Linked DNA regions of Homo sapiens. The protein of the gene in region 7 interacts with the protein of the main gene of each other region in a pairwise test. Each region holds a gene or a part of one and is shown on either strand. Other genes may lie near its edges.

The links.
Region 1: the proteins of BCAR3 (region 7) and AP1M1 interact in binary tests that used the Homo sapiens proteins (3 or more experiments, as listed by UniProt).
Region 2: the proteins of BCAR3 (region 7) and UBASH3A interact in binary tests that used the Homo sapiens proteins (3 or more experiments, as listed by UniProt).
Region 3: the proteins of BCAR3 (region 7) and MTA3 interact in a two-hybrid assay, tested with the Homo sapiens proteins (one large-scale study listed by BioGRID and IntAct).
Region 4: the proteins of BCAR3 (region 7) and KPNA1 interact in a two-hybrid assay, tested with the Homo sapiens proteins (one large-scale study listed by BioGRID and IntAct).
Region 5: the proteins of BCAR3 (region 7) and KIT interact in binary tests that used the Homo sapiens proteins (3 or more experiments, as listed by UniProt).
Region 6: the proteins of BCAR3 (region 7) and DRC4 interact in binary tests that used the Homo sapiens proteins (3 or more experiments, as listed by UniProt).

What each region holds. Positions count from the first base shown.
Region 1 is NC_000019.10:16,225,092-16,229,271, reverse strand, and holds part of AP1M1 (AP-1 complex subunit mu-1), read right to left. Parts: intron 2,852-4,180; coding exon 2,725-2,851; intron 1,725-2,724; coding exon 1,582-1,724; intron 1,136-1,581; coding exon 1,064-1,135; intron 503-1,063; coding exon 344-502; intron 1-343. UniProt on the Homo sapiens protein: Subunit of clathrin-associated adaptor protein complex 1 that plays a role in protein sorting in the trans-Golgi network (TGN) and endosomes.
Region 2 is NC_000021.9:42,406,902-42,411,081, reverse strand, and holds part of UBASH3A (ubiquitin-associated and SH3 domain-containing protein A), read right to left. Parts: intron 1,661-4,180; coding exon 1,474-1,660; intron 1-1,473. UniProt on the Homo sapiens protein: Interferes with CBL-mediated down-regulation and degradation of receptor-type tyrosine kinases. Promotes accumulation of activated target receptors, such as T-cell receptors, EGFR and PDGFRB, on the cell surface.
Region 3 is NC_000002.12:42,704,220-42,708,399, reverse strand, and holds part of MTA3 (metastasis-associated protein MTA3), read right to left. Parts: coding exon 4,082-4,180; intron 498-4,081; coding exon 346-497; intron 1-345. UniProt on the Homo sapiens protein: Acts as a component of the histone deacetylase NuRD complex which participates in the remodeling of chromatin.
Region 4 is NC_000003.12:122,452,131-122,456,310, forward strand, and holds part of KPNA1 (importin subunit alpha-5), read right to left. Parts: intron 1,872-4,180; coding exon 1,740-1,871; intron 1-1,739. UniProt on the Homo sapiens protein: Functions in nuclear protein import as an adapter protein for nuclear receptor KPNB1. Binds specifically and directly to substrates containing either a simple or bipartite NLS motif.
Region 5 is NC_000004.12:54,733,900-54,738,079, reverse strand, and holds part of KIT (mast/stem cell growth factor receptor Kit isoform 1 precursor), read right to left. Parts: intron 1,583-4,180; coding exon 1,471-1,582; intron 1,360-1,470; coding exon 1,260-1,359; intron 906-1,259; coding exon 800-905; intron 1-799. UniProt on the Homo sapiens protein: Tyrosine-protein kinase that acts as a cell-surface receptor for the cytokine KITLG/SCF and plays an essential role in the regulation of cell survival and proliferation, hematopoiesis, stem cell maintenance, gametogenesis, mast cell development, migration and function, and in melanogenesis.
Region 6 is NC_000016.10:90,042,015-90,045,585, reverse strand, and holds the end of DRC4 (dynein regulatory complex subunit 4), read right to left. Parts: intron 3,117-3,571; coding exon 3,051-3,116; intron 2,685-3,050; exon of another isoform or gene 2,391-2,684; coding exon 2,241-2,390; 3' UTR 626-2,240; downstream 1-625. UniProt on the Homo sapiens protein: Component of the nexin-dynein regulatory complex (N-DRC), a key regulator of ciliary/flagellar motility which maintains the alignment and integrity of the distal axoneme and regulates microtubule sliding in motile axonemes.
Region 7 is NC_000001.11:93,587,311-93,591,490, forward strand, and holds part of BCAR3 (breast cancer anti-estrogen resistance protein 3), read right to left. Parts: intron 3,858-4,180; exon of another isoform or gene 2,110-3,857; coding exon 1,667-2,109; intron 1-1,666. UniProt on the Homo sapiens protein: Acts as an adapter protein downstream of several growth factor receptors to promote cell proliferation, migration, and redistribution of actin fibers.

The DNA.
Region 1 (4,180 bases), on a different chromosome or scaffold from region 7:
AGTGTGGACGGGGCTCCTTCAGGGCCTGCATGGACAGGAGCCCCATCTCACATCAGTACTCAGGGGCATCACAGAGAGGGAGGGAGAGGGCACTGCCCTGAGGTGAAGACAGAGGCTGGTTCACAAACAAGAGGAAGGCAGAAAGGGGCCCAGGGGCCGAGTCAGCCTCTGCTTCCTCCCACTCCAGTCCTCAGCTCTCCGTCCACCCTTTCAGAAGCCCCAGGTGTGGAAGACACAGTGGCCACTGTCACCCCATCTTGAGGTGCAGGGGGTCCTGAGGCACCCAGGCTGCCTTGCAGAGACAGGCGCAGGGGGCACGTGGATGTCTGGACAGAGTGCTCACCGGGAAGGACTTGATGGACCACACGATCTCGCTGTTCTCGGGGACCCACTTAACGCTCCCCACCGTCGTCTTGAACTTGGGTGAGTCGGCATCATTGGGCACGGGAATGTGGATCTCCACGTTGTTGGCTGTTGACCGCCGCTTGAACTGGCTTTTGGCCTGCAGGCCAGGCCAATGCGGCCCGGGGTTATGGAGGCCAAGGTGAGCTGGCCAGCCTCTCCAGGACACATGCCCCTCAGCCTGGCCCGGGGGATCCTCCCTAGCCCCGCCCCTGGCCCCACTTCTCCAGGCACTACCCACCCCTTCTCCTGCCCTCGAGACTCTCCCAAGACCTAATTTCAGGAGTTTCATCTTCATCCTCCTGTCTGCTCAGCTTCCAAGGCTCCTCATCCCTCCCTCTGCCCTGCCCTCCTAGGACAATGTCTATGTCCCAGGGCCAGGCTGCGCTGGACAGGGTCGCTGAGGGGCAGAGGTGCTCCACCTGGGGGCAACACCTCTGGGAGTGTCCTGGATGCCTGGCTACAGGCCCCTCCCCACAAGTGGCACCATCTAGGAGCAGGCCCCAGGCGGTGTCCCCTCAGTGTCAGGTCACTCCTGCATCTGAGGCCACAGTGAGGGTGCACGGATGGCAGCCCTACGGCACCCCCAGCCCTCGGTTAGGCTCCTGGGACGGGCCAGAGACACCAGAAGGCCCTCAGTGGGTGGCCTCGGCCCACGCACCTTGATCATGTACTCGATGCGGCTGTGGGAGTGCTTCTCGATCACCGACTCGATCCATATCAAAGGCTTGACCTGCCAAGGAGGGCAAAGAGGGTGCTCACACCTGGCCTTGTTTGACAAAGGCCCATTTCAGAGGGGAAACCAAGGCCCAGGGCAAGGGACCATCTGCCCAGGTGTGGGCCCAGAGCCCTGCAGGGAGCGTACAGCCAGCGTCAGGGAGGGCCAGGGCAGACAGGCCGAGGTAGCCGGGAGCTACCGGGGAGGCCTTGGGGCAAATGCAGAAAACATGACCAGGGCCTGCTCTGGGGGCTGCCTGGGAAAGGGGTGGTGGTGGCCAAAGGGGTCTGTGCCCCTCAGAAAGCTCGGAGTCCCAAGTCCTCAGACTCCATCTCTGCAGAGCCAGGCAGCTCATGGAGCGTGGGGTGGGGCTGGCCCTGGCGCCTGCCTGGGCTTCACCTCCTGGAGGTGAAGGGGAGGAGGAGTCTGCCGACAGCCCAGCCCCAGGGTGGCGCACTCACGTGGGTGTTGAGACGGTAGGACATGAGCTCGAACTCGCCGTCGGGTGGGATGAAGGAGATGGTGCGGTCATTCTCGAAGCGTGATAGCCGCACACACTGGTGGAACTTCACATCCTCCAGCTCCACGGATTTGCTTTTGCCGCCTGGGGTCAGGGGTGAGGGTAGGACAGATCTGGGCCCTCCGGGTCACTATCTCAGCAGTACTCCTACCACCTGCAACCCACCCCGGCAGAGCAGGGCCCCCAGTCCACGCACTGAGAGCAGCCTGGGCCACAAACACCAAGGGGGCTGGGTCCCAAGACAACTGCCCCATCACTCCTCACACCCCTGGGGTCCCCAGGGGCAGGGCTGGTGGGTCTGGTTCATGCTGAGTCCCCAGCGGCCATCCCAGGGCCCAGCCAGGGGACCTGCTCAGGACACGTTCACTGAATGATTGATCAGTGGACTTGGCTGGGGGATGGCTCGGGGCTCCCCAAGGGCTCAGGCCCTGGCATCCACGGGGTCCTGGGTCCTACCTTGGTTTGCCACCTCACTGAGGGCTATGTGGGTGGGGCCCTGCCCAGCCCCAGGCGGGGAGCTGCCCTGATAGACTGATGCCCGAGAAGCCCTCACCGGGCTAGGAACGGGGGCATGCCCAGCCACTGCACCCTCTTCCAGTGGCCTGTGACAGCTGAGTGGGAGGCACAGTTCACAAAACCAGGCCCTGGGCCCCTCTGCCCCCGCCCTGCTGTGGGAAGTGTTAGAGGCCAGGCGGCGGGAGCGAGAATCACCATGCGTGGCCTTCACACGGCCCACACCTAGGGCCCAAGGTGAGGGGAGAAACCTGGCCTGGGAGGGAGAGAGCAAGGCCTTAGCCTAGGCCCCAGTGCCCCAGGCAGAGCAGGGCAGGGTGCAGGACCTGGCGTGTGAGGCCGGGTGACGGGGGCCTCCCAGCTGGACTGGAGGATCTTCACTCCCCTGCACCTTCTATGTCCAGGGAAGGATGAATACTCTACACAGCTGTCTCAAGCAGTGTGAAGTGCTGCTCAACCAAGTGCTTGAAACCAGCTCGTTCCTCCGCCTGGCCCAACCCTGCCCTAGGCTGTAATGTGTGTGCCTGGTGAGGCCATCCTCATGGGCAGGGCCCTTGGCAAGGGTACTCACGGCCCGTGTTGTCAAAGAGGACCTTGTCGTTGAGGCCCAGGCGCAGCTCGGGCATGCCCGAGAGGAAGACTCGCATCTTGATGGAGCCCACGATCTCGCTGCGCAGGACATTGCCGTTGGCGCTGACCTGGGGGTGGCGGTGTGGGCGTGAGGGGAGGTCCCCAACTCACCAGCCACTGCCTCCTACCACATCATGTGACCCTCTGGCCACCCCACTCTCAACGCCCTTCTCACCTCCAAGCCCATCCCTCTCCTGGGCATCCCCTGAGCTGGGAGAGTCCCAGCTGTGGCTAAGGTCTACCCCTAACCCACACCAACCCACGCCTGGCTGAGGGTCCCCAGGCTCACCCCTCCAGCCTTCATGCCGAGGCCCTGTGGACATGAGGTGGACACTGTGGGTCCTGCCCTCTAGGCCTCAGGCCACACTGGGACCTGATGATGCGTGCCTGGAGCCCCCTCTGAGGGTTCTCTATCAGGTACCAGTCCCTCCCTCCCAGGAGCCCCCTGAATGCTCCGGGCCGGCCCGGCAGCTGGTCCCCACGCTGAGTCAGCTTTGAGAGTCCATGAGCTCGGCTGGACCTGGGCCAGGACCCTGTGGTCCCTGCTCAGCCGATGGGCTGGGCTGGGCTGGGGTCTCTTGAACCAGGCCAGACTTGCTTTTCTTGAAAGCTGTTTCTCCTCTTGGCCTCCCAGGGAGGCCACTGGCCCCTCACCCCCCAGGGCTTATGAGAGATGGTGCTTCCTGAGTCCTGACCCCTTCTTGCTTCTCAGGGCCACCCTGAAGTGTGATAACACTTGATCCAAAATAATCAACTTAAATCCAGTCACAGTGGCTAACACTGACAGCATTTCCACTGCGCCAGGCATTGCTCCACACACGCCTCGACAACCTCTGGGGCAGGGACTGTGGGGAGATGACCTGAGGGGCTGTAACCCACTGCGCATGCCGAGATGCATCTGAAAGTGCAACTGAAAATCCACACCGGGGCGACGGTCCTGCACCCCCTAGCCTGTCCTGCGTGAGCCAAGATGCTGGAGCATCTCTTCTTGCATCCATTTTAGAGGTGAGGAAACAGGCACAGATCAGAGGCCCCGTGCTGAGGGCACAGAGTGACTGGCAGAAGAATCGCTGGGGCTGCAGCCCTGGCCACCACTGCACACTGCTATGCTGCACGAGGCCATGCTCACACCAGCAAGTGGGCCAAAGGCCACCGACTTGGATACCTGGGCCCAGATGCTGGCTCCAGCCAGGCTAACATGTGCAGGGCCTGCATTTCCTGTCTGCAGAGTGGCAGGAGAGTCTGTGCAGTCTTATGCATGATGTCCAAAAAGCACTGGGTAGACAAACAAAAGCCCCTCACCAGCTTGCCGCCTCTGAGGGAATTGGGAAAACTGAGGTGCCAAGCAAATGACAGCCCTGGGAGGGGCAGGGAACCGGACATGGCCCCAAGGGCTC
Region 2 (4,180 bases), on a different chromosome or scaffold from region 7:
TGTGTCTGTATGCATGTATGTGTGTGTATCTGTGTGTGCCGTGTGTACGTCTCCATGTCTGTGTGTGTCTGTGTGTCTATATCTATGTATGTCTGTATGCATGTATGTGTGTGTATCTGTGTGTGCCGTGTGTACGTCTCTGTGTCTATCTGTGTGTGTCTGTGTGTCTATATCTATGTATGTCTGTATGCATGTATGTGTGTGTATCTGTGTGCATGTGTAAGTCTCTGTGTCAATCTGTGTGTGTCTATGTGTGTGAGCTATGTGTGTGTCTCTGTGTCTATCTGTGTGTGTGTGTGTGTGCTTGCACCTCAGTGGGCTGGGGAAGGAGTGGGGGGCCAAGGCCTGCTCTGATTTCTGAGCTGTGTCACATGGCTTGGGCTGCCTTGCCTTTCCCCGTTGGCTCCAGAGGGTGAACCAGAAGGGAGTCAGCTTGTCACAAGTACCATTGATGTCGATGTAGGGGGAAAACTCTCTCGATTTTTCTGGGGCTTTTCCAGGTTTAGTCTTGTGCTCTGGGGATCCCTGCAAGTCTCGGGCAATCCGGGGTGGTGGTTGGAGGCTTTGGAAGGTACTGCTTCTCCTGGGACATCTTCCAGAAATCTTTTCCCTTCAGAGGTTTGCATTCCTCCTTTCCATCCAGCACCGAGGGGCCTGGTGTTGGAATGGAGGGTTCCTTGGGCCCTGATGGAATTCCTTGAAATGGGTGGAACAAATCAGTTTGCCAACAGCAGAGTTGGGGCCAGGCCGCGGTAGCAGAAGTGGGTGTGCCCTTCCTTAAGCCCCTCTGGCGGAGCTGAGTAGAGCAGTGGCTGTCTGTCTCTCCCTTCTCCTTCTTTTCTCCTGAGCAGCTCCCACATTCTTCTTGTCTTCCCGGTGCCCCTGTAGAGCTGCCTGCTGGGCCATTGTGTTTTGCTGTGGAGCTACCCACTGGGCCATTTTTTTTCTGAATCAGACGGCTGGTCCCTGAGACAGGGAAAAGTTCTGCATTTGTGGGTAGCCAACAATCACCCATCCTTGAGTTGACTTACCACACATTTTGGAAGCACAAACTCTGTTTTAGGGGCTGTGCTAGTTTCTGGGGGTGCAAAGATGAGTGAGGTATCTGCCTTCCCTTGAGGGACTCGGTCTGGTGAGGGATGCGGTGCTGCACCAGACACATGGCCCGTATGATACAAAAGTGCCACTAGACACATGAACGAGAAAATGGGCAGCAACTCCTTTTGCCTGGGGAGCTGGAGAAGACTCAAAAAGGGGAGAGGATAAATGAGTTGGGTTCTGAAGGATTAATAGGAGTTGACCAGATGAAGGCAAAGAGGAAAATAAAGGACAGCTCATATGAAGGTGCCAGCTAATGATGCAGTTCTGGACTATCCCATTTAAATAAGTCAACTTTGTCCCATCATGGCCTAGTTAGCACAGAAAAATGCCTCCAGCTGCCGTGAGCATTGAAGGCACACTGGGTTGACTCACCGTGAAGAAGTCACAGAGTGTCACGTGTGGGAAGACCTCATGAGCTCTGTTCTTTGCACACTGGCGCTTGCTCTCTCTCCAGAACTCTTGAAGTTTTTCCAGCAGGGGCCCCGTTGGACAGAGGAAAAGGGCATACTCCTGGGGGATGGGGTCGTCTAGGGAAGGGTCATTGCAATGATCATGCAGCCTGCAACAGAGAGCAAGCCGGCATCACCCACTGTCACAACAAAAAGAGTTTTCCCCTTTGAGGATACACAACAGAATGACAATGACAGCAATGCAGAATTATAGGGCACACTGAAGACATCATATATGCTCATGACATAAATTAATCTCACAGCCATCCTACTGGTGGGAGGCACTGCGGCACAGCTGTGTGTGGCACAGACCTGGTCAGTGTAAGTCCTGCTCTCAGACCCACCTTAGTCTGATTCCAAAGTCAAAGGTAGAAAAAATGAAAGAAAGTTGACAGCAAGACCTAAAACCTGGTCTTCCAATGATCCGTGGGCCCAGCATCTCCTTGATGGTGTGGGAAAATTTTGTGGAAAAACCTCACATTTGTATTTTACCTCAAACTTCAAATTACATATAAAAACCAAAACCAAAAACCTAGACAAAATTTAGGTAGCTGCTGCGTTTCTTTAGATTCAGACAGTTTTTATTTTATTTTATTTTATTTTATTTTATTTTATTTTATTTTATTTTATTTTATTTTATTTTATTTTTGAGATGGAGTCTTTCTCTGTCACCCAGGCTGGAGTGCAGTGGCACAATCTCAGCTCACTGCAACCTCCACCTCTCCGGTTCAAGCAATTTTCCTGCCTCAGCCTCCTGACTGGCTGGGATTTCAGGCAGACAGTTATTTTAAATTAAAGGAAAAACGACGGATGACCCAACATAGGAGTTCATTGTCACTAACAATAAAAATGGAAATAAAATAGCTCCGAGACGGCATTTTTCTCATCTGTCAAGTTCACAAAGATTTTTTCAATAAAAAGGATAAAAGTTCTGCTCAATGTGTAAAAGATGCAGCAGGACTTAAGGACAGACCTTTCAACTTTTATGTGAAGCAATTTGCCAATAGGTATTGAGAGTCTTAAAATGCCCACACTCTTTGCATTAATAATTCTACTTCCAGAAATTTCTCCCGAGGAAAGAGCACAAAGTACTGTATAGGCAAAACTTTGCACATGAACCATCTATTTAGGGCTATTTAGAAGAAAGTTAGAAGGTTATTTAGGGTTATTTAGAAGAAAGAAGAAAAACTCCATAACTGATAGCAAATCTATTTACCGTGCATTCATTAGAAATCATGGTTTGGAAGAATTTCTAATTACTCAGCAAAGTGCCTGTGATATAATTTTCAATTTAGAAAGTAGTATTCAATCACTAGAGGAAACAGAACTTACGCAAGACCATATTCTCTTCAATAAAAATCACAGAAGAAGTTGCCACTCCTCTCCATCGTGGTTCCCACCCTCCCCCTTTCCAGGGTTCACCCAGAGGGTGAAGCTGCTTTGCCTTCTCCCAGAAATTTAAGTAACGGACTTATAGATAGCACTTGTTTTACATAAATCATAAGCTGTTATTCAAATTATTCTACAACTGGCATTTTTCCTCTACCATGTCTTTTCAATTAATCCCTGTTGATACACACGTGTCTAGTGAAGTTTGTCAGCGCGAATTTGTTAAAGGCTGTGTAATAGTTCATGTATACATATACAATGTTGCACTTGTTCATTCCCGCATTGATGAACATCTAAATTATTTTATTTTAAAACCATTTCATAACCCTGCAATCAAGATCTTTGTACATGTCTCTTTAGGCTCCTTGCATTTCTCCAGGGAATCTGCTTAGACGCACGACGGAGGCTGGTGGGCTGTGCATATTGCCAAGGTTGGCAGATACCCAGCACTGCCTTCCTCAGTGACACCAGTGACGTGTGAGGCCCTGCTTCCCTCACCCTCATCAACACTTGGAGTTACCTTGTTTGCTCTAATGATATCTTAATTTGCACCACCTCCCTGGTTACTAGTGAGAGGTTGGGGTGCTCTTGACAGTCTAGGGGACCCCATTGCCTCCCTATTTTTTGGTGGGGTTCCTAGTCTTATTGACTGGGTTGCAGTGGGCAGGTGCTGGCCATGCCCTTCACAGCAGTGGGCTTGTTTCTGATCCAAAATTGGCAACTGGCTTTAGTGGACTCTGTGAAGGGGTTGCCCATTTTGCCCGTGGCCTACACTTTCTGGAGGAGGAGGGGGCATCCCATTGGGAACACTGCACGTTCAGAGACCCAGGATCAGTATCTGCCCTCCTGCTTTGGAGAGGACACTCCAGCCTCCCAGGACCTGGTTTTTATTGTTTGATTTTCCCCGTGGCTATCTCAGGGCAGAGGATGAAGGACTCCCCACAGCACATCCGGGTAGGAGAGGGTTTTAGAGAAACGGTGGCCCTCCTCTCCATCCCCAGAGCAGAGAACAGGCCCATGGCAGTGGGTGGCTTGAAGAATCACTCACGCAGCTGGTACCTGGTGAGGTCACCTCAAATCAGAGCCCTCACCCGACCCACACACCTGGCACCCTTAGACCCACACACCTGGCTTCATGACCACCAGTAAACTCCCTTCCCCTCAGAGGCAGCCCGAGAGCATGGTGGCCGCTAGTCTCTATCAGCAAAGATGTCAATTATGTCTCAAATCTTTCCATCAAT
Region 3 (4,180 bases), on a different chromosome or scaffold from region 7:
AATTTGCATTTATGACTTTATGTAGTAAGACACGCCTTCAACAGAATGTAAAGGTTACGAACTGTTTTCAAAAGCAATTAAACATTTAATTTGTAAGCTCTCTACTTATGCTAACATCTCCCACACTCATTGTTTTTTTGTCTGAGACCATTATTCTGAATACCTGATAAAATTTAATTTCTCTCTGCTTCTCTCCACACCTACCCTGAATATTGTAGTGCTACGTTTAGCTATAAAGGTAGCTTTCTTCATTTTTTAATTATCCTATACTGTACTTCTGTTTCCAAGGAATAATCAACCCATTTAAAAACATGCCATTTTTCAACACTAAAAAGACTACTGTACCTCTGTAGTTGGGCTAGGAGATAACTTCTCTTCTTCTGACTGGGTGGGCATTTTCAAGCCTCCATATTTTTTCCAATAAAGCCAACAAATTGCACATAATCTACACTGCATATTAGGTGGGCCCCAAGAATACCACTGGTGAGACTGTGTAGCTAAAGCAGAAGAAAAATAAGAAAAAACGAAAAATGCTATTTAATTTGTAACATCAACACAAAATAATCAAACATTTTAAAAATACTTGTCATGCTTAGTTTACAATGTTATTGTTCCCAGCTTACAAGCCAAACATAATAGTATATTTGTTTTTTTAATACTCAGAATTCATTAAACCAACTTATTTCCATTATTATATAAAGTGCTTGTGGCCCTGTTAAAGCTATTCAGTGAAGCATCCTGTATTATGCATTGTGCTGCTGAGGGAGTTTTTGTTTTGTTGATTAAAAATACTCTATTGTGTATGTTTCTGGAAATAGGTTCTCAAAAAGATGGTAGTATTTAAAAAATCTGGGGCCGGACATGGTGGCTCACGCCTGTAATCCCAGCACTTTGGGAGGTTGAGGCAGGCGGACCATGAGGTCAGGAGATCAAGACCATCCTGGCTAACACGGTGAAACCCCGTCTCTACTGAAAACACACAAAAAAAATTAGCCAGGCATGGTGGCACGCACCTGTAGTCCTAGCTACTCGGTAGGCTGAGGCAGTAGAATTGCTTGAATGTGGGAGGCAGAGGTTACAGTGAGCTGAGATCACGCCACTGCACTCCAGCCTGGGCGACAGAGTGAGGCTCCATCTCAAAAGAAAAAAAAAAAAAATCTAAATCCACGTTTCCAAACCCAGGGTTCAGACACCACTCCAAGGATTATTTAAGGTACTCAGGGAGGTCTCATTGATAAAGTCAGGAATCTAATAAAAACAGGTATCTGTCAGCCAGGTGTGGTGGTGAACCCCTGTAGTCCCAGCGACTACAGAGACTGAGGCAGCAGGACTGCTTGAGCCTGGGAGGTTGAGGCCACTGTGATTGCACCACTGCATTCCAGCCTGGGTTACAGAGGGAAGCGGGGAGGAGGAGGGGGCTGGGGAGGGGAAGAGGGAGGGAGTAGGGGAGGAGAGAAGAAACAAACAGGTATCTGTTTTGCACTCCTTTATTTTAATCAATAAGTAAAATCCTTATTTTAAAATCTCCATTTACAGACAGAATCCCTTTCAAGACTCTAAATCCATATGAAGTGAGCATGGGCAGCTGACATCACAGCATGCTTGAGGCCTAAAACTCAGATGATTTAACAGCTAGCTGAACACTGTAAGCTTGTGTTAGTTTTTGTTTTGTAGTTTAAATTACTGACATGTGACATTTAAAATACATGTGTGATAGATCTGAAGTTTAAGAGAAAACATTGAGGTTGAGACATAAGTTAATTGGGTGCATAAAAAATTGTAATTCTGTAAGTTTGCCTTAAAATATTATTTCTCTGACCTGTAAGTTACCTTCAAATGTTCAAACAGCACATGAAGATATCAACTAACACTTCACAAACCAATGTGAAAAAGAGAAAATACAGAGACCATTATATTCATGTTTATCGGGAATAACACTGTACACCCATCATGTATTATTTTTGGAGGATTATTATTTTAGGCTTTTATTTGTGTAAATATTTTAGGCCTATTTTAGGCTTTCATTTATACAAATAACTATTTTATACAAATGAAAGCCTAAAAGCCTTTCCTCCTATAATTTAGAACTAATAAGTCATTTTTTAAATTTTTTATTTTATTATTATTATACCTTAAGTTTTAGGGTACATGTGCACAATGTGCAGGTTAGTTACATATGTATACATGTGCCATGCTGGGGTGCTGCACCCATTAACTCGTCATTTAGCATTAGGTATATCTCCTAAAGCTATCCCTCCCTGCTCCCCCCACCCCACAGCAGTCCCCAGATGTGATGTTCCCCTTCAAAATCTTAAACATTAAGCTATGAATCTATTTTGAATTCTAAATATAAAATTTCACTTAAAACATACATTTTACGTAAACTAATCATGCAAATCATTTTAATAATTGTCAATAAATGCCTTTCTCCTTAAATAACTCAAATTCAATTGGAAAGTAGGTATCATTTAATAAATAGAAAACATCAAGTTCTATCTCTCTGTAAGGATAAATCTTATATTAAGATAACATTTTATCATGGAGATTAGTAATACATGAGTCTAAAGTAAATATTATAAAATAAAAATAGCTTATTCATCATGCACACATAAAAATAACAGAATAATCATTTAAGGGGATATACGTGAGTGTGAAAGGGGTTTGCAAGTTAATTTTTTTTTTGGGGGCGGGGGGGAGACGATGTTTCACTCTGTCACCCAGGTTGGAGTGCAATGGTGCAATCTCAGCTCACTGCAACCTCTGCCTCCTGGGTTCAAGCTATTCTCCTGCCTCAGCCTCCTGAGTAGCTGGGATTACAGGTGCATGCCACCATGCCTGGCTAATTTTTGGTATTTTTAGTAGAGACGGGGTTTCACCATGTTGGCCAGGCTGGTCTCGAACTCCTGACCTCAGGTGATTCACCCGCCTCAGCCTCCCAAAGTGCTGGGATTACAGGCATGAGCCACAGCACCCTGCCTGCAAGTTAAAATCAAGACAGGTTAAGCCACTACCACTTGTCTGCAGGATTCTTTTCATTTTCATTTGAATATACATGAACTACAAAATCCAAGAATTCCCAATTCAAGGTATTTATGATGCTATCCATGTAAAAGCCTGACCTAAAAAATCTTAATTTTCCACAAATTGTTTCCCTTTGTGCTCCCATGCTGCAAAAAAATGGTTAAACACATCCCCATGTACCATTTCTACAAATTCAGCAACTTGGCTCACACCTTCCTTGGGATCAATCGACGTAATCGTACTCACAGCCGTCCCTCATTCCTATATCCTTCCTGAAGGCAGTAGGCTACATGTACTCTCAAAGAGCTACTAAGAACCCAAAATGGGGCACCAAGTAGGTTTTCAATAAACATTCGTTTCCTTCCCTCTCCCATCCCAGGCTACCTTAACTGGAAGGAAACATAGATGATAATATCACCAATGCCCCATTAAGATATTGTATCCTTGCTTGAGATTTAAAATAAACACACAAAGTCTATCAACTACCTAACGGTTCACTTCACCGACCCCATTTAACACCCTGGGCAAATAAAATACTGCCACCATAGATAAATACAGTGGGATCCTGAGGCCAAAAGCAAGTATCATAGAAGAGCATTTCCCAAACTGGTGCACTGAGGGAACATGGTCTGAGGATTATATACAGCAGCTTATCCACACAGAGGCCTTTCCTACAGAATTACTTGGAGCTTTAATTTGTCAAAGTATACTGAGAAACTCCAAAGGGGAATTTGGTATGCATCATGGGAACACAGTTTCTGCAAAGCTAATATGACTCTAAACACAACTCAGCAAACACTGCTATGAAATAATCAACAAACCACAAGAGTACATCAAGGGAAATCCAATGCCTAACTTGAGTGTGTGGTACGTAATAAGGATTCAATAAACAGTCCCTCTGTTCCAGGCAGAAGGTAAGGAGGGGCATCTACTCATTTAGAGGAGACATGCTTGTGCCTTCCAAGGTGCACCGTACTGACCTCAGGCACTTCCCAGACGCTCACACCCCATGAGCCAGAACAGTTCCCGATGCTTAACTGACCTGCTAGAGAAAACTTACCATAGCAGCTCTCACAGGCTCTCCCTAAGAGAGGATTCTGAGGCTGGAACGTGGTCCCCACAGCTCCATTCACAGCACCAGGCTTCCCATTACTAGTGG
Region 4 (4,180 bases), on a different chromosome or scaffold from region 7:
AGTATATCACAATAACACGTTCATCAGGGAGTCAAATGAAACAGTTGTAGGATTGGGGGAGGAAGATAAATAATATCCTAAAGTGTACAACAAACAGAAGGTATTCGGTTTATTAAAGGAAAGAACTAATTCATTTTTGTTTGTTTTTGTTTTTTGATACAGAATCTCGCTCTGTCACCCAGTATGGAGTGCAACACAGTGAAACTCCATCTCTACTAAAAATACAAAATTAGCCGGGTGTGGTGGCAGGCGCCTGTAATCCCAGCTGCTTGAGAGGCTGAGGCATGAGAACTGCTTGAACCTGACAGGCCAAGGTTGCAGTGAGCCGAGATTGAGCCAATGCACTCCAGCCTGGGTGACAGGGACAGACGGAAGGAGGGAAGGAGGGAAGGAGGGAAGGAGGGAAGGAGGGAAGGAGGGAGGGAGGGAGGGAGGGAAGGAGGGAAGGAAGGAAGGAAGGAAGGAAGGAAGGAAGGAAGGGAGGGAGGGAAAGGAGGGAGGGAGGAGAGAGGGAGGGAGGGAGGGAGGGAGGAAGCAAGAGAAGGAGGGAAGGAGGGAGGGAGGGAGAGACGGAGAGACGGAGGGAAGGAGGGAAGGAGAGACGGAGGGAAGGAGAGACAGAGGGAAGGAGAGACGGAGAGAAGGAGAGATGGAGAGACGGAGAGAAAGAAAGACGGAAAGATGGAGAGACAGAAAGAGAGAAAGACAGAAAGAAAAAAAGAGACAGAAAGAGAGTATTTTCTTGCTTACATAAGAAAACAGTGAACAAAAAGAAACTTGCTTTCTGTACTTTTCTGCACAAAAGTGGCAAAGACTAGCCACTTTCTTTTTTTTTGAGATAGGTCTCACTCTGTTACCGAGGCTGGAGTGCGGTGGTGTGATATCGGCTCACTGCAGCCTCAGCCTCCTGGAGCTCAAGTGAACCCTCCCACCTCAGCCTCTCAAGCAGCTGGGACAACAGGCGTGTGCCACCATGCCCACCTACTTTATTTTCTGTAGAGACTGGGTTTCGCCATGTTGCCCTGGCTGGTCTCGAGCTCCTGGGCTCAAGCAAGCTGCCCACTTCAGCCTCCCAAGTGCTGGAATTACAGGCAGGAACCACAGCACCTGGCCTACTTTCAACACTTGAAATTTCTACAAGAAAAAACCTCTATCAGTAACTGCTTACATGGTCTAAAAAAGTACATATACAGGGCTTAAAGAATGTCAGGTTTGGAAGGGGAAGATTATTTTATGTGTCTAAGAGAAATTCTGCCTACAGTCACTAAGAAATTTTCTATTTGGTTAAGACTAAATTTCTAGAACACTCCTTTGTGACAATCCATAGATTACCAAAGCCAACTGGTGAAACTCAGCCCCTTATTATGTTGGGAAATTTTGTGGTTTTTTTTGTTTTTCTTTTTTTGTTTGTTTTGTTTTTTTTGAGACAAAGTCTTGCTCTCGTCACCCAGGCTGGAGTGCAATGACGCGATCTCGGCTCACTGTAACCTCCACCTCTCGGGTTCAAGCAATTCTCCTGCCTCAGCCTCCCAAGTAGCTGGGATTACAGACACGTACCACCATGCCCGGCTAATTTTTGTATTTTTAGTAGAGACGGGATTTCACCATGTTGGCTAGGCTGGTCTCGAACTCCTCGTGATCCACCCACCTTGGCCTCCCAAAATGTTGGGATTACAGGAGTGAGCGACATGCCCAGCCAAAAACTTTCTTTCACCTGCTTCTTTTTGTTTCATTTTTACCTGTTCCTGGACATCTTCAAACTCTGAGCTGAGCAACTCTATGAAGATGGGCACAGCTCCTGCCTGAATCACAATTCGGGTCTGAAGAGAATTTCCTGAAGCAATATTTGTCAGTACCCAAGCTGATTCAAACTATAAAGATAAAAATAATTTTCATTATCTTTTTAGAATGTAAAAGTTTGTTTACTTATAACAGTAACATTTTCTGTACATGAAAAAAAGATTCTGAGATCATTATTTGCACATAACCTATCAGTTGAGTACTATATTAATTTTAAAAGAAGAATATCCAGAAGAAATACCTCAACCTAGAAGAATATTCAGGGTGTCTAAAATTTCAGTTCAAGAAAGAGTAAACATGACACCATAAAAAGAATGAGAGAGTGTTACATATGCTGATATGGTATGATCTCCCAAGATATAAATGAAAACAAAATGCAAACAGTGTACATTAATATGGCATTATACCATATTTTCTAAAAGCGTTAAAAAGGAATATATGCATTAATTTACTTATTGCACAGATTATCTTCAGAATGAGTTAGAGGAAACTAAATACTTGTTGCCTGCATAGAAAGGTGATGGTAACTAGGGAATAAGGATGAAAAAGATACTTTTCACTGGAAAGCTTTATGTGCCTTTTAGCCTGTACCATGTATGTTATCTAATAAAAAAGATTTAAAAACTTCTGTAGAATGGGCAAAGTAAAATGGGGGGAGAATGTTAGTGTGAAACATAAAATACAGGCACAGTGAAAAAGGCAAAAGGTATCAAATGATAAGTAGGTGAAAGGAGTTAACAGCACATAATGAAAAGAAATGACAACTTCAAAGAATAAGAGCTTCCAATAAATGAGAGAGCTCCAAACCAAAATACAGAGATAGGACTTTTTGGGCATTCTTAATAGGGAGGGAAAAATGAAGGTAAACTGACTAAAGGTTGATATATAGCATTACAGCACTGGTAAACAGAAGATATAAAGGAAATTATGGCCAACAAAAAATAGAGCATATTACTAAAATATATCTCTAACACTAACTTGACTCTTTAGCTTAATATTGAGAAATCCAATAATGAACTCTTTTCTATTTAGTTAAGAGTTCTTAATTACATTTCAGGTTGTTTCTTCCACCATTCTGTCTTCTATTTAATAAAGCACATACACAGAAAAAAAGAAAAATTCCATGGCATGTCCTTTAAATCAGAGAAAATAACAAGTCGTCATCAAATGACCTGTGATTCTTCTAAGCTTCCAGATTAACTAAAAGGTAGCTGTCAGGTAGAAAACTAAATTCATTAATCTTTGGGAATAGAGGAAGACAGGAAAATGGGCCATCTGATCAAATCACGTTCAAAGCCATGTTAGTGATAGAAAATTCATAGCAGAAGACACATAACCAATGGATGTTCCAAAGAAAACTATAAAAGTGACATACATGAGTGAGGTAAGGTGGTTTAGTAGCAGCAGGGAGGCCCAGAGTAGGAGTACTTCGGTTAAAGAGCCCGTATCTGGTCCCTTTTTGTTATAACAAAAATTCTGGGGACTTACAGATTAAACCCCAGATATCATGAAATAAAAATTCTTCCCATATTTATCTCTATGATTAAATTACTAATGAAAGCAACACTCAGTCCCTTTCAGTACGTCTGAATTAAAACTTGACATTTGTACCGTACTTTATATTTTCTTTTTTTTCTTTTTTGAGACAGAGTCTCAGTCTTGTTGCCCAGGCTGGAGTGCAATGTCACGTTCTCAGCTCACTGCAACCTCCACCTCCCGGATTCAAGTGATTCTCCTGCCTCAGCCTCCCAAGTAGCTGGGATTACAGGCATGTGCCACCACGCCCGGCTAATTTTTATATTTTTAGTAGAGACGAGGTTTCATCATGTTTGTCAGGCTGGCCTTGAACTCCTGATCTCAAGTCATCCTCCCATCTAGGCCTCCCAAAGTGCTGGGATTACAAGCATGAGCCACCGCACCCGGCCACTTTATATTTTCAAAGTACTATTCACATACTCGCAGATGATCCCTACAACAACCCAGAGATGTAAAGTATCTGGCTTTTCTTGTGTACAAATGAGGAAACTATCTGAAAAAAAATCCAACAATTTGACTAATGACTCGAGTAATGTTACACAGTCAAAGACAAGGACTAAGTTACAGCCTCCTAATCTAATACATTACGAAGCCCAGTCATAGTTTCCTGAAACATAATGCTGACCCAGAAATATTTCATTTGCTTGTAGTTTGGATATCTAGTTCAAGAAATTTTAAATAACAGTATGCCAGATTATTTATACTAAAAAAGAAAAAACAAGTTCACCTAAGATGTAGTTTCTTTTGCTTACTAGGAAAATTAATTTGTAAACCAGAGTCATATGATGTAAGTATAAAAGCAAACTGTCCCACCACAAGGCAGGCTCAAAGTTCAATAAACAGT
Region 5 (4,180 bases), on a different chromosome or scaffold from region 7:
GGGAAACCCACGGCCCTTCCAGGGGTCTCTTGTCAAGAATCAAAGCAACTGGGTGGAAAATGCTGTTCAATTTGAAACATGTTTTGACACCCAGAAGAACAAGCTTTAACCCAAAAATTATCAGTGGTGTGCTATTAGGAAAGAAAAGATAGCTCCAAGCACACAGCCCAGGAAAGAAAGCAGCTTAAAAAAATCTGAGTCAAAGTATCACTAATTCTTGCTTAAAAAGAGAGGAAATAATGGATTTGAGTTTTCATTCCCCCACACTTCCCAAATCACTGGGAGGGATCTCCCAACTTCAAACAGCTCTTCATTCTATATGGCTTGTGGGCATGACAGCTATCTGCCATTTTCTGGCTATGCTTGTTTGATCAGAAGGCTTATTTCACTGCAGTAACAAGCTGTCTTTTCTATGCTTTTATTCTAGTTCACATCACCCCAACCCTCCAAAGGATGCATGGCCCTGACATGTGAGAGGGAGAAAATACTGACCCCGTGACCAGCATTTGAGATGAGGGAGGAAACATGGCAAATCCTTATGGAAACTTCTACTTCCAGTGAGTACAAAACTCTCCACCCTTCCCCCTCAATCTCACATCCTTCTTTGGCTCAGAACAGGAGGGCTGGGCAGAAAGAACTAGTTTCCATTGCTTTACTTCCCCTACCTGAAGCCCAATTTGCAACCTAAGATTAGGAGAGAAGGGGTTGGGAGGTTAGTCCTCACCCTGAAAGCCTGAGGAGGAGGACACACCTGGAACTGGGAGAAGGGGGATTCTATGCCTGGCCAGGGTATACTCACATGATTGGTGCTCTCTGAAATCTGCTTCTCAATTAGCTGAACAATTTGCTTGAATGTTGGTCTTTTTAGGGGATCTGCATCCCAGCAAGTCTTCATTATGTCATACCTGCAAGACAAGGGCCATTTACTATCCCTCCTCAATGCCCTCAGCTTGTTTTCAAATGTATGGGCATCCAGCAACTTCAGTAATAATTCCAGGGCTATGCAACTGGACATATGGACTGACATATAGATAACATAAAACACTGCATGTATGAAATATTACTGAAACTTTCTGTATTTTTGGTGACAAGAGATTATGAAAATAAACTACAGAAATGACATTTGACCAGTGTGTCATAAAGAATCCAAGTGACATTTCAAACTGTGTTATGAAAACCCTCAACATCTGGGTTTCTGTCTCTAAAAAGAAAAATAAAAGGGAAAACGTGACCTAAAGGAAAAATTTTTTGGCTCTTACATTTCAGCAGGTGCGTGTTCAGGGCTGAGCATCCGGAAGCCTTCCTTGATCATCTTGTAGAACTTAGAATCGACCGGCATTCCAGGATAGGGGCTGCTTCCTGAGACACAGTTTGCAAAGCAGTGTTAATCACAAGGAAGCAGGACACCAATGAAACTTCAAGAAGATGCTCTGAGTCTAATGAAGTTGTCTTTGGCAAGGATCATTTTACCTAAAGAGAACAGCTCCCAAAGAAAAATCCCATAGGACCAGACGTCACTTTCAAACGTGTATACACAGTTGAAAATGCTTTCAGGTGCCATCCACTTCACAGGTAGTCGAGCCTGTAATAGAAGCACAACAGAGTCAATAATGTTAATTCAGAAGCTCAACAAAATTGAACAGAAGATATTCTTATAGATGCTGCTGTTGCTGAAATGTGGAGTGATAACTTGAGTACCATCTCACAAAAACCTTTTACCTATATGAACTCAGATGATCCCAATCACCTCTGAAATACATGGCTCACAAGTGCATTATCCCCATTTTAAGATGTGAGCACTATGTCAGTACGGCATGGAGATTAAGAGCACAAACGTCAGAGACAGCCAGACATTTTAGCCCTGGCTCCACCATGGGCCTTAGGTAATGCAGAGATTTGTTAGTTTCCACTGAATATGTCCCTCTCCTTCCTTAAAAACAGAAACACGGCCTCTCACAATTAGGACTACATTTCCCAGCCTCCTTTGCAGCTAGCTAGCTGTAGTTAGGTGACTCGGTTTTGGCCACTAAGTTGTAAGTGCTGTATAGCAGCTTCAGGAAAACCTCCTTACAATATAGCTGGCACGTGCCCTCTGCCCTCTCTTCTCTAGTGCAAGGGCCCCCTGCCTTCTGGATATGATGGCTGGCTATCCACCTGGTGGTCATCTTGGACCATGGACATGGGGGTTACACTCAGGAATGGCTAAGCATGGAAAGGAAAGACTTGCCCGGGTACTCCATGGAACCTTTATACCAATCCTGGTATAAAGTCTACTCCTAGACTTCTTTTATTTTGGGTTTTCTGTCAAAACCCAAAACTTTCTCTAATACACTGGGAAAGTCACTAAAATATTTGTAATTAAGCCTCAGTATCTTCTTCTGTAAAACAAAATGAATACTTTTAATTTTATGAATTGTCTTGTGGGTTAAATAAGATAAAATGGGTAAAAATGCTTAGCACCGCCTGACTCAGTGCTATCTGAAAAATTGCCTAGAAGAAAGGCAAGTACTTGATAAACAGTAGTGGCTTGTGATCCTGACTCTTTGGAGAACTCTCTCCATTAAAGTTGAGCTAAACTTTCTGTAACTAGTCCTTTTAGATGCATTCTGGATTCCCAATCTTAATCTGCCATAAAAAGCTAAATCAATCCTTCTCTTAATCCATTTAGGATTGAAAACTGGGAAAGCTTTTTTTTTTTTTCTTTTTTTTTTTTGGTGTTAAAGTTATTTTAGTCAGCTTACAAAAACAAAACAAAAAACTTCCAATATCCCTTCCCTTCCTAGATGTTGTGCTAAAGTTCCTATAAGGGCTCCTAACCTGAGATCTATGGGTGTCAAATTCAGGGGCCTGTGAACTTGGAAAGGAAAAATGACATCCTTATTTTCGCTAATTTCTAGATGAAATTTAGCATTTCTTTAAATTACTAACAAAGGTGATAAAACGCAGTAGTATCAGCTGTACCTGTGACTTTGTCATGAACAGTAATCATAAATATCTTCATATCCTATTAAGTCTTTATAGGTATCTCAAAATCATATTTACATTAATCACCACTCTAAAATTACAGTGGTTTTTAGAAAAAATAGCAAAACCCACAATTACTTTTACACCAACCTAACAGAGCCTGTTACACTCTATAGTAAACACATGTACTGACATATCACAAATTTACTTAGTATCTTCATAGCTATTTCGATTTAACTGTTTTCCTTGGTATTCCTATGTATTTCATCATAGGCGTTGAAAACAGTGTTCTGATAAGGGTCCCATAGGCTTTACCAGGCTCTAAAAGGGGCCATGACATGAAAAACAATGAAGAACTCATGTGAAAGGAAAGAACTTCAGAGAACCTGACACAACAAGGAGATCTCAAATGATGATGACAAAAATGTGGGGCGGTAACATATATGAGTTTCCTTCTTCTTATCTTGTTCCAGAAATTCTCCTTACCCACTAGCCTGGTGAAAGCGAGATCTGTGATTGGTTAGTTCAACTGACTTGAACTGGAGTCTACAATCTGGAAGCCTGATAGAGCCAACCCCTCTTTGTCATTTCAAACTAAGGTCACTAACCAATAACAAGACAGTATGTAACCACCGTCACGATTATTTAGATCGTAAATAAGACATCTATAAAGAATAGTAACAATATGTCTGGCACTGTCATAAGCACTTTACATATATTAACTCATAACTTTCTGAGTCAGGAATCACTATTATTCCCAAGGGGAGAAAAACAAAGATTCAGAGGTATTGGACAACTCTTGACAAAATTACACAGGCATGAAATAATGGAGACAGATTGCAGAATTCATCAAGACTGGGCCTGGAGGCGGCCACCTTCTTCCTCCTCCCTTTGGTCAATATTCAGAGGACTGGATAATTAACGACTTATCATTCTTCCTTCCAAAATTGCACCAGGATGAAGAGAAGTTGTTTTTATTATCACTCCTGATGATAATATCTAGCTTCAGGGCAGCCTTTTCAGAAATTCATGCTTTGGCCAGGAGATAAACACAGAAACACTCTTACAAAACCAAATCGAGTACAGGCTACCAATAGAGACGCCACAGTGATGGGGGGAAAACATTACATTATCATAAGGGGCACAAAAATCCACCTCCAGGAATAAATCTGGACTGCAGAAATGGGCCCAGGAAGACAGGCAGAGAATATTATAA
Region 6 (3,571 bases), on a different chromosome or scaffold from region 7:
TCGTGATCCACCCACCTTGGCCTCCCAAAGTGCTGGGATTACTGGTGTGAGCCACCTTGTTCGGGCCTGCTCTTTCTAATCACAGCAGAAGCGCACACTTTAAAGACCAGCTGGCAAGAATGATGGGAGGTTTTCCAGAAGTGACTATGGGCAAAGCCACGGTTATTCAGAACCCTGATAAGGGACCAGGGCACACAACACAGACGCTCCGTGGAGTTGGACAGGCCCACTCTGTGGGTGAAGGTTTGGTAGTTATTGACCCAGAAAGCCACACACTTTTTTTTTTTTTTTTTTTTTTTTTTTGAGATGGAGTCTCGCTCTGTCGCCCAGGCTGGAGTGCAGTGGCACGATCTCGGCTCACTACAGCCTCCGCCTCCTGGGTTCATGCCATTCTCCCGCCTCAGCCTCCCGAGTTGGGACTACAGGTGCCCGTGACCACGCCCAGCTAATTTTTTTGTGGTAGAGATGGGGTTTCACCGTGTTAACCAGGATGGTCTCGATACCCTGACCTCATGATCCGCCTGTCTCAGCCTCCCAAAGTGCTGGGATTACAGGTGTGAGCCACCACGCCCAGCCAGCCATACACAATATTTTAAGTGAAAACCACAGGTTATAAAACAATACAAATAGTATAATCCACTTTATAAGTTTTTAAACAAATATACTTATGCATAGAGAAAATCTGGAAAAATATATGCCAGCTATAAAGTGGTTCTTGCTCATGGGATAAATTGTGGGAGACTTTTTCCCTTTTTGCTTCTCTGTGTTGTGATTTCCTAAAGACAGGGCAGTGGTGTCCCTAGACTGCTCTGGAACTGCAGGACCTAACAGCCTCACTGTGTCTGCTCACCCAAGTCTGACAGGTGGCAGGGCAGTGTCTGAGGCCCACTGGGATGCAGACCCAGGAAAGCTGGGGTGGGGGGCTTCTGGTCCCCATCTCTGCAGCCTCATCCTCTCCCCAGCTACACAGACCCAGATGGTCACTGTCCTGGACCAGATGAAGGCAGGCACCTACAAGCTCACCTTCGACACTGAGGGCTACTGGAGGAAGAGGGGGCAGGAAAGCTTCTACCCACATGTGGAGGTGAGAGCCCCAGTGGGCTGGAGGGGGCTGAGGCTCATGACTCACTGGGATCTGCAGGCCAGGTCCTGCTGGCCGGGCATCATTTAGGCAGTGGGCAGACTGGTCCTGGGCGGTGGCAGGTAGGTGAGCTCACTTGCTTTGAGCTCCCAAAAGAAAGGTGTCCAGGCAGCAATAGACTCTACGAGGACACACCCGTCACTCACCTGCCCAGGGTCAGGCTTTGTGGGGAGGCTGGGCCAAGGGTGATTCATCCCCTCTTTGTTGACAGAGGTTTTCATCTGAGCCAACTCCAGCTCTCTGGGCCTAACCTCACTGCCTCACCCCACACTGGAGCCGCCGCAGAAGCGCCTGACTTACTGGGCTGTGGCTTCTGTGGAGTGTCCCTCTGGTGCGGAAGGTTCACCCCATCCCAGACCCTCAGTCTGGGCTGCTGAATTCTCTCAGGTGTGTTGGGGCCAGATAGGTGGTTTGCTGCTATCCCCTTATACTCTCTCCTGGCCTCTCCATCTCAGGTTGTTTTAACCATCACCAGCAAGGCCCAGAAGTTCCACGTGCCCCTGGTCCTACATCACCTACCGAGGGAGTTAGAGCGAAGACTGGCAGCGGGAGGCTGCCTGCCCGTTCCCGCACGCTGGCTGCACCCACCCAGCCCTCAACAGAGCGGGCTTTGTGCTCATCAGGGAGCATTGGCTCACCACTTCCTAGGGAAGTCCCGGCCCCCTGGAGAATCCCACTGGGCAGCTGTGACTCAGGTGTCAATGAAGTTAGTGCCAGCACCTGCAAAGCTGTCCATTCGGTGGGACAACAGTGGCGCGAAGACAGGCAGCACAGCGCGGCACTGCCCCAACCCCCAGGTGAGTGCGGGGCACTCTGAGAAGGTGCCGCCGACTGTGGTCGGAGGTGAGACCAGGGAGTAGGCCTGGACACAGGCTGGACGTGCGGCACCCAGGGAAGGGAGCGACAGGGACACCATGGGTGAGGGTCCTGCAGGTGGTTCTCCTCCACAGAGCCAGGAAAGAGGATGGCAAGAACATGTGAAAAGCTTTCATTTGCTGATGATAAAATCTAAAAAACTTGCTGTCCTTGGTGTGATAAGGGGTGTCATCCCGAGTGTTCCTAGGCTGGTTCTCTGGGCTGTGGCCCCCCAGGGGGGCAGCTACGTCGGGGTGCCCACCAGTCCCGCGGGGCCCTGGCCCAGTGTCTGTCCGATCACAGCTGTTTCCAAGGGCTTGAAGCCCACGTTGTCCAGAGGGATCCCGAAGGCCAGCAGCTTTGCCTCATACGTGCGCAGCAGGTCGTTATGGGCCTGTGGAGACAGGGCAGTGTCAGGGAGCTGAGGGTCCCCACGCTCAGGACCACCAGAGCTGAGTGCAGCTCCATGGAGGGGCAGCGTGAGCATCACGGTGCAGAAGGATAAAGCCAAAGGCTTATCAGTCATTTCCCGTGTGGGACACAGCTCCAAGCACCTTCACTGCGTTGGCTCAGGTAGCACGACAGGGAGAGGCTGTCACTATTCCTATTCCACAAATGACGAGACGGAGGCAGAGGGCAGGGACACTCAGGGCAGAGCTGTGGTCTGGGAGGGCTCTGGGCCCTGGCTGGGTGTTTCCCACTCAGGTTCTTCACGCCCTCCCTTCCCCTGTTGAATGACGTCTGTTTCCTTCCCCGGTGGGCACAGCACCTTCTGACTCCCTGCCCAGGGGAAGGGGCTGACCAGGGAAGCGTCCAGGTCCCCCCCTACACCCATCCCAGCAGAGACATGGCCTAGACAGCAGTGCACTGCCCCAGACCACACAGAATCCAGATGCTCTCGGCTATGACTGCACCCTCACGTGGGGACAGTGACAGCTGCCTTGTCAAACGAGGTACGAAGTGGGCACAGGTGGGGTCCTCAGAGACCGTCTGCATTTAGAACAGTCTGGGCACCGAGGGGGTGCCCCTGAGGGAGGGCAGGGCACAGCCGTACCTTACAGACCTGGGCCAGCTCATACTGCAGGTCCTTGATGGTGCTGTTCTTCGACTCAAGAACATCCTGAGGAGAGAGAGGTGATGGGAGTTTGAGACTCATCTTTTGGCCGAGGCAACGGGAGCGGCCTGGGGACTCCAGTGGGCGTTCTGAGAGATCCAGCGAATAGCAGCCTGGTTTGATGGATGCATCCATCCACACAGGGTTGTCAGCAGAAAAAGGTCTCCAAGGGTGGAGAGAAAACAAGGAAGAAGCAGAGAACTGGGAGCTTGCACAACCTGCCTCTCCAGCAACAGTCCAGGCCAGGCACTGCCGCTCACACCTGTGATCCCAGCAGTGTGGGAGGCCAAGGAGGGCAGATCACTTGAGGTCAGGAGTTTGAGACCAGCCTGGCCAACGTGGCGAAACCCCGTCTCTACTATACGAAAAGTAGCCGGGCACGGTGGCTCACACCTGTGTAATCCCAGCTACTCAGGAGGCTGAGGCATGAGAATTGCTTGAACCTGGGAAACGGAGGTTGC
Region 7 (4,180 bases):
CCACTGTGCTGGGTCTGAGTCTGACATTCTACTCTCCTCCAGATAATAATTATCATGAGCACTTCCCTAGCACCTCCTCTGTGCCTGCACTGTTCTGAGCACTTTGCATATATTAAATCATGTACACCTCACAAGCTCCATCTTTCTAGATGAAGAAGGTGAGGCCCAGGAAGGTCAAGTCGCTTGCCCATGGTTGAAAAGTTGCCCAATGTGGAGCCGGCATTTGTGCCTGGCTACTGGGTCCCCAGCCAGATGCTGACTAGCATGTGCCGGAGCCTCCAGGCAGCACACAGCTGTCATTTACATTCCACACAGAGTCCTGTATTTTCCTCCCTAAGTTTTGCAGTATAGAAATGACAGTTTATGACATTTCCTCATGGACCCCCCCGCCAAAAAAAAAAACCAGTGAGTAGAATAAAATATGTTGGTTTACGTGCATAAGATTAGAAGCTGGGAGCCGGGTCAGGGCTGCTGTGTGACTGAGGGGCTGGACTGGATCTATGTCCCCGATGCCTGCCTTTTCCCTCCTTTCCTTTCCCAGTGCTTTTAGATAATATGCACAAAGACTCTGAGCTCTGTGAAAGACGGGCCCTATACAAATGCAGGCCAACGTCGCTGACATTTGACAGCTGGGTGCTTAGGATCAGTGAGGTTTTGAAGCCTTGATTTTCCACCAAGTGCCCTGAATCTTTCTCTTCCCCCATTCCCTGAGATTCAGACTACAGACCCCATGTTCTCTGCATCTCCTATCTTAGAAATCTCATCTGTTCTCACCAAGTGAACCACCCTTTCCAGGTGGACCAAGCCCTAATTTAAGTTTTCAGCTCTAACTCCCCTCCTGGACCCCAAAACTGCTGCTGGACTGTGGCACTCAACAAGCCCATAGTCTTCCAGCTCAGATGAAAAAGTGTGTTTTATCCTCCAAAGTCCCCTCCCTCCTGGTCACTCCTGTGGTCTCCAATGTGCCCTCCTCTGACTCTACCACGTGAAGAAGAGTCCTGGGAGGCCAGGCTCCTACATCTCTTGACTCTCCCTCCACTCCACTCCTGCAGCCGGGGCCCTCCATGACTCACTAACTGGGTTTCCTGTTCCTGTCTCTCTCCTCACCCCCGGTACATCACTGTCCATTTCTATTCTTAGGACACCGTGTTCGCTATGCTGAGTCTGTACAGCTCCCTTAAAGCCCTGCACCTGGCATTAAGGCCCCCATGATCTGGCTGGGGCTATCTCCCTAAGCCCACTGCTACGGGTCCCTTGCACAGACCCTTTGTTCCAGCCCTACCAGCACATTCACTTCAAGCTCTTCATACCATTTTCTGTCCCCACACTTATGCCCATGCTATGCCTCCCACCTGGAACACCCCCAGCCCTTTGCAGCATCTATCCAAATTTCCCCCAGCCATCAGACCAGCCTAAGTCTACCCCCTTCACAAGGTATCCCCATCAGCACCCCCCGAAATTCTTCCTCAGCTCCTGTACCATTCATTGCTGACACTGCTCAGCTGGGAGCTAATTGTTCACTGCCTCGTGACAGCTATTCTGCGAACAGTCGGCATTCCTATTAACATCTTTTATTTCTTTGTTCCATGATGAATTCTTCACCTGCCTAACTAACCTTGGGCACCCCGGCGCCCCTCATAGTCCTGCAGAGGAGGCCCTGACCTACCTGAGGAGGTTTCCCCTGGGCAAATTCTGCTCTCGGGCCTGGACGCCACCCATGGTGAGGCTCAGCCTCTTGGCCACATCCGGCCTTCCCTTGGTGAGGCTGCCCTCCCGGGCCTGGCCTGGGGAGGTGCCATAATGCTCCTCCAGGCACCGCAGAGGCACCGTCCTGTTGATGGGCTGGAAGATGATGGCGCCACTCTGCTGGGAGATGGGCCGGCGGTTGCCCACGTAGCAGCGCACCAGGCCGGGGATGGAGTCGAAGCTCTCCATCTCGAACTGGTACTGCACGCGGCTGTAGGCCTCGCTGAGTCGCAGAACTGTCCGGTTGATTTTGAAGTGCTGAGCGAGGTTCTTCCACTGACAGGTCAGGACAAAGTTCCCAGGGCTGGACAGAGAGTCACGAACTAGGAAGTCACCATCTCGCTGCACAAGGTTTTCAGACACCTTTGGGACAAAAAGGTGAGTGAGGAGTAGGAAAGGCAAATTCACATTCCTTCTAAAAGCTTATGGCTACCCACTTCTCTGGGCCAACAGAAGACAATGCTACTATGTCTCTTCTTGGGTCAGCTCTTTAGTTTTTCAAAGATCAAATTCATAGAAGAGCCAATCATTCATTCAAGAACTATTCACTGACCACCTACTCGTGCCAAGCACCACTGCAGGCTCAGGGGATGCAGTGGTGACAGTGGCACACAAGAGCCCACCTTATGGAGCTCCTGTTTTTGGTGGGGAGCTTCTGTTTTAGTGAGGATAAATAACCAGTGGCTATGGTATGTCAGCTGTAAGGTCAGGGAAGAAGTAAACCAGGAAAGGAGGCAGGAAGTGCCGGGGAGGGGATGAGGGCTGTCCAGTAAAATAGGGTGGTTGGGGAGGTGTCACAAGAACATGACGTTTATACAGACCTGAATGATGTAATGAAACAGGAAATAAGAAATGAGAAAATGTGTGCCTGGCAGGCCTGATTTTCCCTCCCCAACAAGTGGAGTGAAGAGAAAGAAGGGTATTTGTTGGTGTCTAGAAGTCATCCTAGGGGCCCTCTCCTAAGATGCCCCTCTCCAGGCCTGGCCAGTGGGGAGGAGGAGTCCACATGCAGGACTGGGGTATAGATTCTGGACACACCAATTACTGGCTAGAAGGCCTAGAACAAAGTCAGGCTGGGGTCCCTCATCTTACAGTTACTATCAGGGTTATGTATTTGTATACATAACATATGTAAGCACTGGAACACAGTGGATGCTCAAAAATAGTTAACAAGCATGATGCTGCTGCTTACAGCAACTGGAGAATTTATAATGTGGTGCAGCCTGGCTGTTCCTGTAGCCTGACCACCTGGGTTTGCATCCTGGCTCAGCTGTATGACTCTGGACAAATTACATAATCTCCTTGTGGCTCACTTATATCATCTGAAAAACACAAATGATAATATTACCTATAGAATGGCTACAAAGATTTAAGGGGCTAAAATGTTAGCAATAACTCGTTATTACGGTTATGGTTATAGTGTTCAGTTATCCAGTTTGGAACGATTTATCACTGAAAATTAATACTCATGCAAGTAGTAAACGAATGTAATGACCATGATAAGGAGACGGACGGTGGTGATAGTATCGGTTTTATAATTCTGACAATTTTTCTGGAACATTCCAACATTTGATCAACAGTATACTTCTGTTAGGTCAAAATAGTAGGCTACCATGGTTACTTTAAAATTGCATCTTTGCCTTAAAAATGTTTTCACATAGAAATGCCACTTCTTAGAATTGAGCCTGTGAAAATAATTGTAGGTATGAACACAGCAATCTTAAAGGATATTGGTCAGAGTATTAGAAACACCCTATGTGTCCAGTAAATTGTAGTGCATGCATACCGTGGACAGACATACAATGTAGGCTGGTGCAGAAGAATATTCTACAGTGGGTGAAAATTCCCAGGACATAGTAAGTGAGTAGAATGGGCTACCAAAAAAGTATATGTAGTACAATCTCATACTTGATTTCAAAAAGCCCGGGAGGATGTATGTACACAAAAGTATTCATCGTGGTTATCCCCAGGAGAATTATGAGGAGAATTATGGATAAGAGTTTAATTTCCTTCTTTTTGCTATCTATGTTTTCTACAATCAATTTTAAACTTAAAAAAACAAAGTCAGAATAATAATTATTTATTTGATTGTGCCAAGAAATCTACTACATTAAAAAAAAAAAAAAAAAAAAAAAAGCCTGGGCACAGTGACTCATGCCTGTAATCCCAGCACTTTGGGAGGCTGAGGTGGGTGGATCACTTGAGGGCAGGAGTTCGAGACCAGCCTGGCCAACATGGTGAAACCCCGTCTCTACTAAAAATATAAAAGTTAGCAGGGCATGGTGGTGGACACCTGTAATCCCAGCTACCAGAGAGGCTGAGGCAGGAGAATCGCTTGAACCCAGGAGGTAGAGGTTGCAGTGAGCTGAGATTGTGCTATTGCACTCCAGCCTGGGTGATAGAGTAAGACTCTGTCTCAAAAAAAAGAAAAAAA